Regions from separate parts of the Homo sapiens genome. Here region 2 is linked to region 1. Evidence: fine-mapped expression QTL. A gene starts in region 1. The other region holds a variant in brackets. All regions are shown on one strand. Distances are from middle to middle.

Evidence for each region. PIP is the estimated chance that this variant, and not a neighbour inherited with it, causes the effect. A credible set is the group of variants that fine-mapping cannot tell apart.
Region 2: its variant is the best candidate, but not a certain one, in a credible set for the expression of KPNA2 in left ventricle (GTEx, PIP 0.74).

Annotation. Positions count from the first base shown.
Region 1 is chr17:68,033,477-68,037,867 of GRCh38, forward strand. KPNA2 (karyopherin subunit alpha 2) reads left to right here and starts at 2,259. Exons shown (of 11, transcript NM_002266.4): 1 at 2,259-2,364; 2 at 3,634-3,731; 3 at 3,882-4,019. The coding sequence starts at 3,657. RefSeq lists a silencer at 1,992-2,041 and enhancers at 2,005-2,552, 2,572-2,791.
Region 2 is chr17:68,159,583-68,163,973 of GRCh38, forward strand. No RefSeq gene overlaps it. Among named protein-coding and RNA genes, the nearest start is that of LINC00674, 60 kb to the left of the region's middle. The variant C/T (reference allele first, on the strand shown) is at 2,477.

The sequences.
Region 1 (4,391 bases):
TTCAGGTTGTTTTTAGGTGCAAGTACAGAATAGTGGTTCAGAACACAGATCCTGGAACCAGACTGCTTATGGCTGAATCCTGTCTTTGCCATTTACTGGCTGTGTGACCCTGGAACAAGTTACATAAACACTTGTGATTCAGTGCTCTCTTTTGTGAAATAGAGCAAATAACAGTACTACCTCACAGTTGTGAAGATCAAGTGTATTAATATATGGTAAACACTCAGAACACTTCTGGGCACATAGTAGTCAGTATTTTCAAGCAAAAGAAACTCAACTTGGCTTGGTATGGTGGTCAGGCCTATAATTCCAGCACTTTGGGAGGCTGAGGTGGGTGGATTGCTTGAGCTCAGGACTTCGAGACCAGCTTGGGCAAAATAGTGAAACCCTGTCTTTACAAAAAATGCAAAAATTAGCTGGACGTGGTGGTGTGTACCTATAGTCCCAGCTATTTGGGAGGCTGAGGTGGGAGGATGGCTTCAGCCCAGGAGGCAGAGGTCGCAGTGAGCTGAGATCGTGCCACTCCACTCCAGCCTGGGCGACAGAGCTAGACCCTGTCTCAAAGAAAAGAAAAAAAAGAAAAAAAAAAAGAGAAGAAACTCAACTTGACAATACAAAAGAAATGTGTATCGGATCTCCTACCTGCAAACCTTCAGAGATAGAGCAGGTCAGACCTCTCAAGGTTTCCCTACAGTTTTCTTATTCAGATTTCTAGGACTCACATCCCTTAGTTCAGAAGAACAGAGGCTGCTTTCCTACCTCCAACCAGTAAACAAAAGGCAGAGGCTGTCCAACTGGATGAATTTAGGTCATGTGCCTGCCCCTGAACCATTCTCAGTAGCTGAGAGAATGCCACACAGTGATTGGTTTAGGGGTGAATTCCTTCCACATTCTTGCATTTAGGGGGATGGGATTATGCTGATTAAGAGTAGGTCCAACCCTTTATGAACTCTGGCTTTACGATGAATGAGGCTGGCATTAATGCCTGCAAAAATGGACAAACTTGCTGTTTGAATTTATTTATAGTAAGAAATAAACCATGAAAACTTTTCTAAAATGTAATCTTTTAGAACACAAAAAAATTGCAGAAACAAAAATGGCCCAGAATCCTGATGCTCTGTTGACCATCTTTGTTTTGTTTGTTCGTTTGAGCATATGGCAAAAAATGCAAAATTCAGAAATGTGTAATGAGCATAGAATGTTACTATAACAATTGAAAAAACTTGAACACACACTACATACTAAACAACAGCATGAAATTTCAGTTTTTCTGAATTTGATGACTGCAGTGTGGTTATATAAGAGAATGTCTTTTCTTAGGAGAGACACCGTGAAACAGAGGAAAAAGGACATGATTCTGAAACTTTCTCTTAAAGTAACATATTAAAATCACACATATGTACACGCGTGCATATGTATACATATATATGTATAGAGAAAGCAATAGCAAATGTGGCAAAATGTTAAGATTTGGCAAATCTGGATAAAGATTTGCAATTCTGCTGCATTTGAAATTATTTAAAAATAAAAAACTTGAGTTTTTGGAGAAACAGGCATAAGAAACCTTTTGTTTCCATATTTGCGGCTTCTATACAGTCTTTTATGATGCAATTAAAAAAAAACTAAACTAAAAAATATAACACAAATCTTCCCTCCCATAGTAGCCAGAAACCCCCGCCGAGTACTTTGGGTGTCATAATAGGAAAAAAATGCAAAGCAATATGTTTTTCTATAAAGATTACTTATTTACTAATTAGAATTTTTTTATTTTCATGAAGATCAACAACAAAGTTTTTAAAATAATGACTTAGAGAATCATTTTGTGGTATTTGTTTAAGGCTGTCGCCCAGGAAAACGCCCAAGGACCATGCACGCTTCAACCCTATGGAAACACGAACGGCCCAGGGAACCGCCCCTTCGCGCTGCTTGACGGGATCTGGAGTCCTCCCGCTCCGCCCCGCCAGGCGCTCAGGGACCGCCCGGCCGCTCCCTCACCGCCCGGCCGCTCCCTCACCGCCCGGCCGCTCCCTCACCGCCCGGCCGCTCCCTCACCGCCCGGCCGCTCCCTCATCTCGCGATGCCATCCTCTTTTTTTTTTTTTCTTTCCCCCCTCCCACTCGCCCCCAAGCCCTATGACTCCCTCCCCTCCCAACGTGTTTTTCAAATCCACCAATGGGCACACAGCTTAGGCTCGAACCAGCCAATCGGAATGCGGAGTCACCGGGAAATTTAAATCGCGCCGGCCGGCTGCACGAGCCACACGGTCTTTGAGCTGAGTCGAGGTGGACCCTTTGAACGCAGTCGCCCTACAGCCGCTGATTCCCCCCGCATCGCCTCCCGTGGAAGCCCAGGCCCGCTTCGCAGGTACAGACTCAGGCGGCGGCCCGGCCCGAGCGCTAACGGCTTGCCCGTGGGCGGCGTTCGCCTTTTGGGTTGGGGGAGGGAGGCCCCGGGTCCACGCCGAGCCTGGCTCTGCCTCCCGCGTTGACTAGGCCTCGGGGGCGACGTTCATTGACCAGGCGGCTGAGTTTCGCGGGGTCTGCGGGTTTAGGGCGCCGACGCTCTGCAAACGGCAGCGGAGGCCTTAACGCGTCGCGGCCGGGAGAATCGGAGCGAGCCAGGCTTGAGGGCGAATGTCCCGGGAGGACTTGTGGCGGCCCTGGTTTCGCCTCCTCCTTTCTCGTTGCATCTTCCCCGGCGTGGGGGCAGGGGCTGGGGGTGGCAGTTGGGAGCACCGTCTCTGACACCTAGGCCCCGGGGGTGGCTCTGCCACCAAGTCGTAGGCGAGCGTAATGAAAGCAAAGATAGCAAATTGTAAGGAGGGCTTTGACTTTTGTCATCTTCTGAATGACGCACAGCTGATGTCATCCTAATTAAGCGCATTCACTCCTAGTCTCTGGAAATGCAAATCAAATATGCGAGATGCGGCACTGCATTTTTAATGTTGACCATAATGTAATGATGAAGCAAATTTTTATTTAATTTTCGAGTCTGCACCTATTTTGGCCAAGTAAAGACAGTAAAATAGGGAGAGCCTCCTGAGGATCTGAATTTATTGCCCTGGCACATAATTTTTAGCTGTAAGTTGACTTGGTTCCCCTACTTTGTCTTGAATTAACTATTAGGGACTCTGGAGTATCGAACTAGGCTGTCAGAAACGGTGGATACATGTGGCTAGTCCAAATTGAAATACGCTGTAAGCTTAAAGTACACAAAAGATTTCAAAGATGGAGTATGGAAAAAGAATGTAGAAGATGTCAGTTATTTTATATATTGATAACACGTTGAAATACTATTTGGATATGTTGGGTTAAGTAAAATACATTATTAAAATTAGTTTCACTTGTTTCTTTTCTCCTTTTTAAAAATATGGCTACTAGGAAGTTTCAATTTATATAGCTTGCATTCTATTTCTGATGGAGAGCCCTCTCCAGGAAGTCTCAGCCCTTTAGAGGGAAGGGGGACACTTCCCCTTTGGGTAAAGCTATTTCATAGTGCCGAAAACATGATGATCCCCCCTCTAGTATACAGGTGTGGATTCAGTAGATGCTTGATAATTCAGTTCTTATTTGGTACTATTATTGACAAAGGAAAATGATAAAGGAAATATTTTTCTCTTCCCCCATCTTTTAGCTTTCTCCCTTTGTCTCATAACCATGTCCACCAACGAGAATGCTAATACACCAGCTGCCCGTCTTCACAGATTCAAGAACAAGGGAAAAGACAGTACAGTGAGTACCTTCTGTTGCTTTCCTGTGGTGGTATTTAAATGGGAAGACATTTGGAAAGGGGTGAAAACTGAGGTATTTAAAAAAAAAATGCCCTCACTTAGCAACAAAAACTGGTGTGATAGGTGAAACGGCATGTTATCTTTTCTCAAGGAAATGAGGCGTCGCAGAATAGAGGTCAATGTGGAGCTGAGGAAAGCTAAGAAGGATGACCAGATGCTGAAGAGGAGAAATGTAAGCTCATTTCCTGATGATGCTACTTCTCCGCTGCAGGAAAACCGCAACAACCAGGTAAAAAATGTATTTTAGTTTATGAGTTACGTGAAATCCAGAAAATCAGTAGGGACTTTTCTTAGAAATTCAAGTAAACTTAACATTTCTAGTCTTAACGGTTTTAACTATCTGTGAACATCTTTTTCTCTGTTTGCAATTAGTAATTGTCTTCTTTCCTGCCTTCTGTAATCCACTGAAGCTGATTTAGGATCTTCCTTTAGCTCTGACCTTCCTTCAGACTTCCCTGCATTTCTAGCTACTAGCTGGGTACCTTGGCCTGACCAGTGTGTCCAGAGCCAGCCAGTTTCTGGTTTATTTCTTCTTTTTTTTTTTTTTCCCCCGAGATGGAGTCTTGCTCTGTTGCTCAGGCTGGAGTGCAGCAGCACAATC
Region 2 (4,391 bases), 130 kb after region 1:
TGAGGAATGGAATATAGACAAGAATAGGCAGCAAGATTAGCAGGAAGCAGTCAGATCAAGTAGCCAATCAGGCATTGAAATGGTCCTTGAAAAAGGAAAGGTGATTGAGTCGAGGCATACAATGAAATATCATTCTGTGGTTCTGGGAAAGTAAAATTGGTTGGCATGTTAGCATGGAATAGGGTTTCTACAAGGCCGCTTAAAGAATGTTCCCACTCTGAGAACTGAGGGGAGTTCCAAATAAGCAGTTTGTGAGTGATGATGAACATGATGATGATGATAAAGTCTCCTTATGTAAGAGCTGGCAGAAGAGTTGGTCACACCTACATGTTTTAAATTCACATAAAAGTAAATATATGGCCGGGTGTGGTGGCTCACACCTGTAGTCTCAGCACTTTGGAGGGGCTGAGGCAGGCGGATCACTTGAGGTCAGGAGTTGGAGACCAGCCTGGCCAACATGGTGAAACTCCATCTCTACTAAAATACAAAAATTAGCCAGGCGTGGTGGTGTGTGCCTATAATCCAAGCTACTCAGGAGGCTGAGGCAGAAGAATTGCTGGAACCCGGGAGGCGGAGGTTGCAGTGAGCCAAGATTGCGCCACTGCACTCCAGCCTGGGCGAGAGAGACTCCATCTCAAAAAAAAAAAGGTAAATATAGCTAGGCATGGTGGCTTGTACCTAGCTACTTAAGAGGCTGAGGCAGGAGGATTGCTTGAGGTCAGGACTTAGAGACCAGCCTGGGCAACACAGTGATACTGTGTCTCTAAAATATTTTAAAAAGTAAATATAAGCAGAACTCTTCTGGTGAAAATTTCATTCATTCATTCATTTTTTAGAGATAGGGTTTCACTCTGTTGCCCAGGCTGGAGTGCAGTGATGCAATCATAGCTCACTGCAGCCTCAAACTCCTGGGCCCAAGCAATCCTCCCATCTCAACCTCCCAAATAGCTGGGACTACAGGTGCATGCCACTACAACTGGCTGATTTAAATTCTTTTTCTCTCTCTCACTCTCTCTCTGTGTCTCTGTCTCCGTCTGTCTGTCTGTCTTTTTCTTTCGTCTGACTCCGTTGTCCAGGCTGGAGTGCAGTGGCACAATCTCACCTCACTGAAACCTCCACCTCCTGAGCTCAAGCAATTCTCCTGCCTCAGCTTCCCGAGTAGCTGGGATTGCAGGCACCGTCCACCACACCTGGCTAATTTTTGTACTTTTAGTAGAGATGGGATTTCACCATGTTGGCCAGACTGGTCTCAAACTCCTGATCTCACCCACCTTGGCCTCCCAAAGTGCTGGGATTACAGGCATGAGCCACTGTACCTGGCCTGAAAAAAATAATACTTTTGATAAATCTGAAAATCTGGGGCTATTTCTGTCACTGAGAGAAGGTGTGTCTTTCCCCTTAAACTAGGTTCATGTTGCTGAGGAGGCAGAGGGCTGAGTTCTTCCATCCATCGCCTTCAAGTGTCAGGCGGCTTCCGGTTGGACAAGATGGCTACCCCAGTGGGCTTGTTTCCTCTCTGGTCTCTTTTTCTGTCTAAGACTCACTCCATACCAGCCTGAGCTTGGGACCATTGTTTTGCTCCTCTCATCCTCCTACCCCCAGAGCTGACAGATTTAGCAAATAAAATTTACAAGATCCTGTTAAATTAGAATTTCGGACAAACAACAAACTACCCCACACTGTCTCAGGAGGGTCCCTCAGAGATAAGTGTCACTGAGCCTCGGGAAGGAGGAAGCTCCATCCCTGCCCATCAAGCCCCCTCTTGGGGTCCCCTCAAGGAAGACAGTGGTTCCAGAAGGTGTGTTCCCACCCCCTTTCACAGCCTACCTCTCTCCCATCCCTCTCTGACCCCAGGTTCCAGCTGGCCTGGGGATTTCTGGGAGGATCCGAAGAACAAGGCCATCTGCAGTAGGAGCCTCCTGTTCCTCGCCACCTACGCTTCAGCCCTGCCCAACTAACAGCTCTCCATGTTCTAAAGAAGGCAGGAGTGCTGGACCACCCCAGCCTTCTGGAACCCCAGTTCTGTGACATTATCCATCTCCTGGAAATATGCTGGTTTTAACCATGCAAATTAGTTAAGCATCAGGCAGAAATAGCAGCTGGGCCTGGAAGCACAGGTGACGTCTGTGAGGAAAATGGCTGGGTGGGACAGGGTGGAGAGCACGGGCTGTTCCCTTCCTTTCTGGGAACAGCACCACCTTTGGGGTAACTCCTTCTCTCATGGGGTTTTAGGCGGGGGCTGCCAGTGCCAGTGCCCGGTCCCCTGTCACCCCCCATAGTCATAGGAACGCTTCTGCGCCAGTCACTACATTTATAAGGGGAAGCTGGTGGAGCTGCTCAGCTTCCAACAGGAAGCCCATGTGTGCAGGGCCAGAGGACACAGCCCATCTGAGGTGCTAAGCTTCTGTGAAGAGGGAGTGGAGTCTGGACCGGATTCCAGTCCCACGGTCCACCCTTTCTGGGACCCAAACACACC[C/T]TTCCCCTTCCTTCAATTCTGAGAAGCAGTAAATGTCCCTACTTGCGAACAAGTTTGAGTTGGGTTTCTGTCACTTGCAGCCAAAAGAAACCTGCCAGCTACTGTCAGCATCGGTCAACCATCTGTGAAACTGTGAGCTGACAACCTGTCCCCTCCCTGTGAAGGCCACAACATCCCAACACCATTAGTCACCAAGGAAGTCTGGGAGAAATTTCTACCAGAAAGGGGCAAGGGAGGAAACATTTTGTTACTGCTGGCCCACTCTACCCTCTGAAACAGGGCGGCAGGATCTGGCAGAAAGAAAGTTTACAAGGGGCTTCTAAGCAGGCAGTGCTGCCCCATGCCCCCCGGGCTTCTCCTCCCAGCAGGGCAGCAGCATATGGCACCCTGGGATAGGAGGTCTGCAGGGGCGGGGGCGGGGAGGCTGAACATCCTGGGGGCACCACTTTATGAGGAACCATTTATGGCCAGAACTCTACAGGGGCTTCAGGGACCTGAATGAACTCATCTCTGTAGAGTGAGAGTCCTGGGCAGGAGGAGAGGTTTCCATAGCCCAGGACCACATGCTGGAAATTTGGTCTCTGCAGCTTAAAATCTGAGAGAAGATGGTGTCTGCAGCATTCAAAGGGGGACCAGAGGGACCCTCCACCCCTGGCCCCCCCAGCTATTACAAACATGAGCCCTGGGAAGATTCCTATCAAAAACCCAAGCTGGGGCCCATGAGTCAAGTCTGGACGTGCAGTTTGGGGCAAGAGGACAGATGGACGCCACAGGCCATCTGTCTAAATATTTCCAAATTATAAATTAAACTAACAGGGTGTTAAATAAAGTATGTTCTAACCTCATCCCCTGACAAATATTCCTTTAAAATGATAAAATTTAAAAATGTGTATGAAGCTATGATTTGTACATGACAGAAAGTTAGCAAAATATCAAAGATCATAAAATTTTTTTGCTTTTTTTTTTTTTTTTTTTTGGAGACGGAGTCTCACTCTGTTGCCCAGGCTGGAGTGCAGTGACGCGATCTCGGTTCACTACAGCCCCTGCCTCCCGGGTTCAAGCAATTCTTAATATTGAGATGCGTAATAAAATAAAGATATGTGTAATTTATAAATTACTGAAACTATTCCATGAAATTTATTTTTATTCCTTTCAGCAAAATCAATTATTATTGTCAAGATTTAAAAATACATGTAAGAAGGCTGGGCGCGGTGGCTCATGCCTATAATCCCAGTATTTTGGGAGGCCACGGCAGGCGGATCACGAGGTCAGGTGATCCAGACCATCCTGGCTAACAAGGTGAAACCCCGTCTCTACTAAAAATACAAAAATTAGCTGGGCGTGGTGGCGGGTGCCTGTAGTCCCAACTACTCCGGAGGCTGAGGCAGGAGAATGACGTGAACCTGAGAGGCGGAGCTTGCAGTGAGCCAAGATGGCGCCACTGCACTCCAGCCTGGGCAACAGAGTGAGACTCCATCTCAAAAAAAAAAAAAAAAAATACATGTAAGGATTAAAACAGTCATATTCACAGTACAAGTATCTTAACATTTTCATCAAAATAAGTTTATGTAAAAAATTTAATTTTGTCAGAAATGTTTTCCCAAACAATATTCTTTTCAAATATTGAAAAGTATCTATTGCTGGGCCCAGTAGCTCACGCCTATAATCCCAGCACTTTGGGAGGCTGAGGCAGGCAGATCATGAGGTCAGGAGTTTGAGACCAGCCTGGCCAATATGGTGAAACCCCCATCTCTACTAAAAATACAAAAAATATTAGCCAGGTGTGGTGGCGCACCTGTAGTCCCAGCTACTTGGGAGGCTGAGGCAGAAGAATTGCTTGAACCCGGGAGGCAGAGGCTTCAGTGAGCCGAGGTCGTGCCACTGCACTCCAGCCTGAGCGACAGAGCGAGACTCC